Homo sapiens: one gene and its partner. The protein of the gene in region 2 interacts with the protein of the main gene of each other region in a biochemical or structural test. Each region holds a gene or a part of one and is shown on either strand. Other genes may lie near its edges.

Evidence for each region. Proteins that work in one complex are often made in the same cells at the same time.
Region 1: the proteins of NDFIP2 (region 2) and NEDD4 form a complex in vitro, tested with the Homo sapiens proteins (3 studies listed by BioGRID, with this or other methods).

Annotation. Positions count from the first base shown.
Region 1 is NC_000015.10:55,826,342-55,829,688, reverse strand, and holds the end of NEDD4 (E3 ubiquitin-protein ligase NEDD4), read left to right. Parts: 3' UTR 1-2,767; downstream 2,768-3,347. UniProt on the Homo sapiens protein: E3 ubiquitin-protein ligase which accepts ubiquitin from an E2 ubiquitin-conjugating enzyme in the form of a thioester and then directly transfers the ubiquitin to targeted substrates. Specifically ubiquitinates 'Lys-63' in target proteins.
Region 2 is NC_000013.11:79,479,567-79,483,322, forward strand, and holds the start of NDFIP2 (NEDD4 family-interacting protein 2), read left to right. Parts: upstream 1-1,588; 5' UTR 1,589-1,637; coding exon 1,638-1,958; intron 1,959-3,756. UniProt on the Homo sapiens protein: Activates HECT domain-containing E3 ubiquitin-protein ligases, including ITCH, NEDD4, NEDD4L, SMURF2, WWP1 and WWP2, and consequently modulates the stability of their targets. As a result, may control many cellular processes.

The DNA.
Region 1 (3,347 bases), on a different chromosome or scaffold from region 2:
GCTGTCTTTAGAGTTAGGTGCCTGCCTAAAGCCAGGCACCACCACACCTGGCTTTAGAGTTCACACAATAGGATATAAGTCCTGTATGACTTAAATAGTGAATTTTGTCCTTAACATTTACCTCTTGTATAGTATCTGCCAGGCAGTTTTTTCTTAAACTACTGAGATGATAACTGTGAAATATTTGTGATACGTGTCATGTGTGAAAAGTTTGATGCATTTTGAGATGGAAAACTGAAATTTGGAAAAAGAAATACTTTACTATTGAGTAAACTACAATATATTTAGTGCTACTCGCAGCTATTTATTATTTTGTAGACCTGCCTTATGCACCTTACTGCCTAGATTTTTGGGAAAAAACTTTGGAAAGTGTGTTACCTATATTTCTAGCCAACTAACTCACAGAAAAACTGTTTACTTCTTCACTTTCGAAGTATTTGGCTTTTGTTAATATGCAGTTTTACTAAACAGATGGTTCATAAGACATGTGAAGCAAATTCATATTTGCAATGGGTAAAAAGTATTAAAGCCTTTCTCTTGCCTGCATATCCTATTGACCATTGGTATAGTCATCACTTTTTCATATTTTAGTGTAGTTAGAAGAATTCCTTCTTCAAACATTAAAGATCCACAAAGCAGTATTTCTAAATATGCCTTGAAGAACTAAATGAAGTGTATAGCACTTGCCTTTACTAGATATTCTTTACACTTGTACAATTATGTAGTAAATGTATGTTTACAGGGTTTATCATGTTTACAGATTAAGCTAATTTCTGTAGTCGCATTTTTATATTTTTAGTATCACTCTAGTAAAAAAACCAAATAATTTGTTTAAAATAACCAAAGAGTTGTTATAATGCATAATTTGTATTAAATTTATTACTATTTCTTATGCCTTTTAAAATACTGTTTACTATGAAGACAATGTTTTTAATTACAAATCCAGAATTCTGTAGGCAAAATGCTACAGTTCATATCTTCCTTTAACCAAACTGAAGTACATAAAGACCATGTACATGTATTCATCAAACGTTTATTGAATGCTGCGTGCCTAGCGCTGTGCTATGCTCTGGGGTAAGAGTTGTCAGCTTCAGAGAAGCTGAGTCCTGATCCTCAAGGAACTTGCAAATGTGTCTATGAATTTGTAAAACAATCAAAAGTAGGCGTAAGCAGAATAAGGCAAAAGGGAAAGTGTTCTAGGTTCCAGCACACCTGCAAAGATAAAGTGTGCCAAGACTGTATTTATATTTCATACTTATATTGTTTCATCCTTATATTGGAATGATTATATAGAAAATGCTCTTAAAAAGATTAAACCTATTTCTCAGTATGGTATCTTGGTGATTTAGGAATAATTGTAAATATATGTTACGAATCTTCTTAAATATATATATATACACACCCTGTGAGAACTGTAAAAAGTACCTCTGGTTCTTGGTTTAAGTTTGTTGGGGTATAACATGATGAGTACTCATTAGCACCTGATAGAAATCTGAAATGTGACAGTAGCAAAACCACTTTCTACTTTCCAAACACCACAGCATCAGCATGGTTTAGGGGAAGCAATTCACAGATTAATGTACCCTGCGTTTTGTCTTCACCATTGTCAACCAGCAGTCAAGGATGAGCACCAGGTATAGTCCTGGTTTGATATCTCACCAGCCATGTGAACTGAAGCAGCTTACTTAACCTCTCTGGATTCATATTTCTTCATCTGTCAAATGAGAGTAATCATGCCCACCCTCATTGTCATGCCAGATTGTCAGAAGTTCCAGACAGATGAGAAAGCAAAAAGTACTTTGTAAAGTGTTATACAATCAGAAGGTGCTTTGTGCTGACCGTCAGATTGTGTCAAGTCAGGTGTGCAAATTGACCACACTCCCAAAGAATCATTTAAAAGTAAAGTGACTTCTAAGAGACAAGGAAGTAGGAACATTTCTGATATTAAATATATAAATAATATGGATACACATGTGTATATCTGTATATGGATCTTACCATCATAATTCATTTTCTTCATATCAGCAAAGTAATAGTAATGTGGGCCAATGCATTTTGGAAATGTCCTCATTATGTAGAATGGAATGTGAAAATTATTTTTGTTAAAACAGGATTTTGCCACAATTATTTAAATATTATGTTTGTGAACTATCTAAGCATGAGAAAATACAAAGCTTTCTTTGTATCTGGCTGATACTCATTTGGATGATTCTGTGACTCATAGAACATGATGTTAAATGAGACCAGACTCAACTGCCACCAGTCCCCAGCTGCAGACCTTCATCCCCTTCATCTCCCACTAGGGGCTCGTGGTCTGGAAGAAACATCTATCAAGCAACACAGCCCCTTATCCCAGATAGAAAAGTGTCTCAAATGCATTCTACTGCGGGACAGTCAGTAGGATCATTTTCATAAAGCAAGGACATCATATGTTTCTAGAAATTACAAGCATATAACTTTAGCCTACAATCTCTTATTAAAAATTTTTAACAAAATTGTATTACAAATGCATTTCATCAGAACTCAAATTTAAATGGTGTTTGTTTTGGGTTTTTATTTATAATGCTGAAGTTATTCCATATAAGTATCAAGTTAAACACAATTCATTTTGATTATAAACTATTTGACTTTTTAAAATCTTCTGACACAGTAAATATATATATCAAGATTGATGTATCAAAATTTATTGCACACTTTAAAGTGTAAAATCATTTTTTAAAATCTTGAATCCACAAATAAAGTTCTATTCTGATTTTAAAAAACAAAACAAAACTGTGGTTCATTATAAAATAGGAGTGTTTCCAAGTCAGTATGCTGGGTGATGTCTTCTGGTCTAGTTCCTCACAGCAGCACGTTAAATTTTCAGTGCAATCCTAAACTTATTACCTGATGAACTAACATGATTATAAACTCTCAACCACAGATAATTAATTTCCACTTTACAAAAAGGTCGTATTGCATAAGTCTGGTTGTTAGTGAAATAGCCAGAAGATAAAAATAATAGCTAAAAATGGACTGGATTTCAGGCACCTTGCTGCTCATCAAAGAAGCCATTCTTGTAGCCAACCACTATTTACAACATCATTTCTATGAGAAAAAGAGTTCGGAGTGTTAATTCAGAACGAAGTGTCTTTTCCTCCTTCCTCTCAGGCATGAGAATTAGTTTCCCAGTTAGAAGGGAATCCACTCCCACCCACTCAAGCCAGCCTGGGAAGGTGCTGTTCCAGCCCCCTGTTTCTGCCATAATCCAGGCCATAGCTTTTAATTTTGGGGACCTAGGCCATGGCCCTCTGCTTCCACGTTTCCTGTTCTAGCCAACTCGGGCAGCAGCTAGCCCACAGCATGCC
Region 2 (3,756 bases):
GGCATATGTTTATTGGCTTAGAAACTAAAATACATTAAGATCAAAACAAGGCAAGTTTAACAATATTTAAGTATGAGATATCACTGCCTCTTATTGTTAGCACAGTAATGCTTTATGCTATTAGACATGTCAAAACGGCACAAATAGGAAGAGTTGATGAATGCTTTAAAAAGAACTATGAGGAAGGCTTACATTTTTTAGTTGTCAATCTCTCAAAGAGTTTCTGTTTTTATTCTATCTTGCTATTTTAACCAGTTGATTAGGCTCACCCAGTGGCAGTCTTCATTTCAAGGATCTCCTCTGGACATTCATGAAGGAAATAAATGGGGCTCCAGATCCCTTTCCTTCCCTTCAGGGCGCTCCACTGTAAGATCATTTAGGGAAAATGTGGTGTTATGTTAAAAACATAGCTGGGCCACATCAAGCAGCATCATAGTTTTTAGGGTATAGAACGTTGGTCTTCAGGTTAAAAGGTACTTTTCGCTGCTCTGTCATACTCTTCTACTTGCTAGAGAAATATGCTTTATGCCGTGTCATGTGTGGTTAACCAGACAGTGAGATACTACTAACAGTGCTCCCAAGTGATTCCTTGCTGTTAAATCAATTGGAATTATTGAGTATTACCACAAAATAATCCTATCTGATTTCATTACTTTCTTCTAACGTCCTTCCAGTAACCTAGAACTCTAGAGACCTCTTTCTTTGAGAGTTGTCTGGAGAGTCCGTTGGATTTTTAAATCTCTTATTACCAAAAAGTGGAAAAAAGAGTTTAAAAAGTAACCAAAGAGCTAGTGCCTGTAGTCTCAGCTACTCCAGAGGCTGAGGCAGGTGGATAGCTTGGGCCGAGGAGTTCGAGGCTACAGTGAGCCATGACTGCGCCTGCTAACAGCCACTGCACTCCAGTCTGGGCAATATAGTGAGACCCCATCTCTAAAAAAACAACAAACAAAAACAAAAATTACCCCACAGAAGAATTTCAGGGCAGTGGAAATACTCTGTAGGATACTATAATGATGGATACCTGCCATTACACATTTGTTCTAACTCGAGGAGTATACAACAACCTGAGTGAACCCTGAGGTAACTATGGACTTTGAGTGATGATGAGGTGTCAATGCAGGTTCATCAGTCGTAACACATGTACCACTCTGAGGGGGGATGTTGATAATGGTGGGGGGTTATGCATGCGTAGGAGCCAAGTGTATATGGGATATCTCTGTAACTTCTCAATTTTTCTGTAAACTCTAACTACTCTATATTAGTCTTTAAAAAATCGCTTATCTTACGAATGATTTTGAATAAGCGTTTTGGGAATGTTCTAGAGATGAATCTCCTCCCCATGTCCTACGCTGGGTGAGGAAGTGTCGGGTACCCGGGCGACCTGTCCTCAGGTGTTCTAGGAACGCGGCCCCATCCCTTGTCAGCCTCTGTCTCTGTGTGGTGAGAAGGCGCACTGGCTCGTGCCTGCGCGAAACTCGCGCACACAGAAAAGACCAATCAAGGACGGGTCATTCCCGCCCCCCGCGCGCCTTTTGCGACCGCCCACTCGACAGGTTGACAACCTAGACAGCTCCCCCGGACTTGCCTTACTTTTCCATCTCCTCCCACCCAGCTATACCCTCCCACTGGCGGCGCGGATGGCACGCCGGCGGAGCCAGCGAGTCTGCGCGAGCGGTCCGAGCATGCTCAATAGCGCGCGCGGCGCCCCGGAGCTTCTCCGCGGAACCGCGACCAACGCGGAGGTCTCGGCGGCCGCTGCGGGAGCCACAGGAAGTGAAGAGCTTCCGCCGGGAGACCGCGGCTGCAGGAACGGAGGCGGAAGGGGCCCTGCGGCGACGACGTCGTCGACGGGGGTGGCCGTGGGAGCTGAGCACGGAGAAGACTCCCTCTCTCGGAAGCCGGATCCCGAGCCGGGCAGGATGGATCACCACCAGCCGGGGACTGGGCGCTACCAGGTGGTGAGTTCCCGGCCTCCTGTGCCTCCCGGGACTGCCTCCCGCCGCGGCGTCCCGAGAGTCCCTTTCCTCAGGTTATTCCCGGAGGAAAAGCTGTGGCTTTTTTTTGTTGTGTTTTGTTTTGTTTTTTTGGATCTTCTGGCTGGAGCTGCTTCACTCGCCTCACCTGCGCACTCCTGCCTAGGACTCCTTCGAAACCCTTCTCTCTCGCCCCAAGTCTGCTTAGCTCCTCACCCGCACCCTTAGCCCCGCTGTGAGACGCCCTCCCTCCACACACCTTACAACTTGTATCCGTTTTAATTTCTCACTTTATCATTTTCTTATTCTCTGACTCAGTCACTCCTGAGACATTCTAGTCGATTGTCTACTGGAAATGGGGCTGACTTCACATACCTGCCCGGAAGGTGATCGCCGTCATAAATGGGGTGGGTGAGTAGGTGGGTGGAGGTGTAAGTACTGCGTGGGGTGGGATGTGGATTTGGCAAAAATGTGGGTTAGGAATTGTGGAACTGTAGAGAAAGACTAGCCATAATGCTGATCTTGTCTCTCTGCTCGTTAACCTTGTCATTTTGTCCTTTTCCATTATGTTAGTATTAAAAATGACTGTATTTTTTGGTAATCCCCACTTTTTCTTTCTTTCTTTCTTTCTTTTTTTTTTTTTTTTTTTTTTTTTTGGTTAGAGGGGAAACAGAGGTAGTTTTAGTAGAACAAATTCTAATCTTGTTTGAAAAATTATTTTTCGTTAAATACAAGGTTTTCCAGCTTAACTGTGTAAACTTTGGTAACTATGTTGAAAAAAGTGAAATGTGTTCCTCTATATTTTCAGTGTCAATTTTTAAATATATTTTTCTTTGTGTATTCTGGTGGTGACGTTGGAGATTCCTGTTGTAAACCTTAGTTAAAGATGGACTGAGCAATAGTTGACTCTGCTGTTGTGCTGTTGCAGCTAGGTAGCATGTCATTCTACAAACTTTCAGCCCATTTACTGAGGGAGAGGAGAAAAACAATACATAGCACTGGTGATGCAGTTTATGGTTTATAAAATTTTACAAATTTAGGTATGTTAGTCCCAGGTTTCAACTTTCAAATCTATTTGCACATGTAAGACAGGTTATAAGCCAAGACTTTCTATTAATAAGTACATTTTGGCAAATATGAAGGAACTGTAAGATGAGATCCTAAAGTATGTAATTTTGCATTTTTCTAAGATAAAAGCTCATGAGGCTTCCATTTTCAATTGGTTTGCATTCCTTAAAACCTACAAAAGGTCCATATTCCGAATTCTTTGAAAATTTATCAGCTTTTCTCAACAACTTGGGAAATACTGTTTCTCCCAGTATGGAAAGCGTTTTTCAAGTTGTCAGTGTACACCCTTTTGATGGTTTGAAAGGCATTTCTAGGTTTGTAAATGTTAGCAAAAATAAAATGATATAAATATTGAATAATATCAGCAGTGAAACTTGTTTCATTTTTCCTACAGACGTCACTACCCAAAACACTGTTAATTTATGTAGCTCTCAGTTTTAAGATATTTGTTTTCCCAACAACTCCTTTCAAAATAAATGGGCATATTTTATTGCTGCCCCCTCCCCTCGTTTTTTTCAAACTGACGATGTGTCCTACATAGACTTTGAATGTTCCTTGAGAACAGAGGGCAAAAATCAGTTCTTCTAAAGATAAAGCCTACCAGTCCCTCTAAAGGTAGTACTTTAGGTAGGACATCGATCTGTTCTCCTTGTAAGGCAACTTACAACTAACATTGTAAGGCAATGTTAGTGTTAGAGTTACACAATTTACGTAG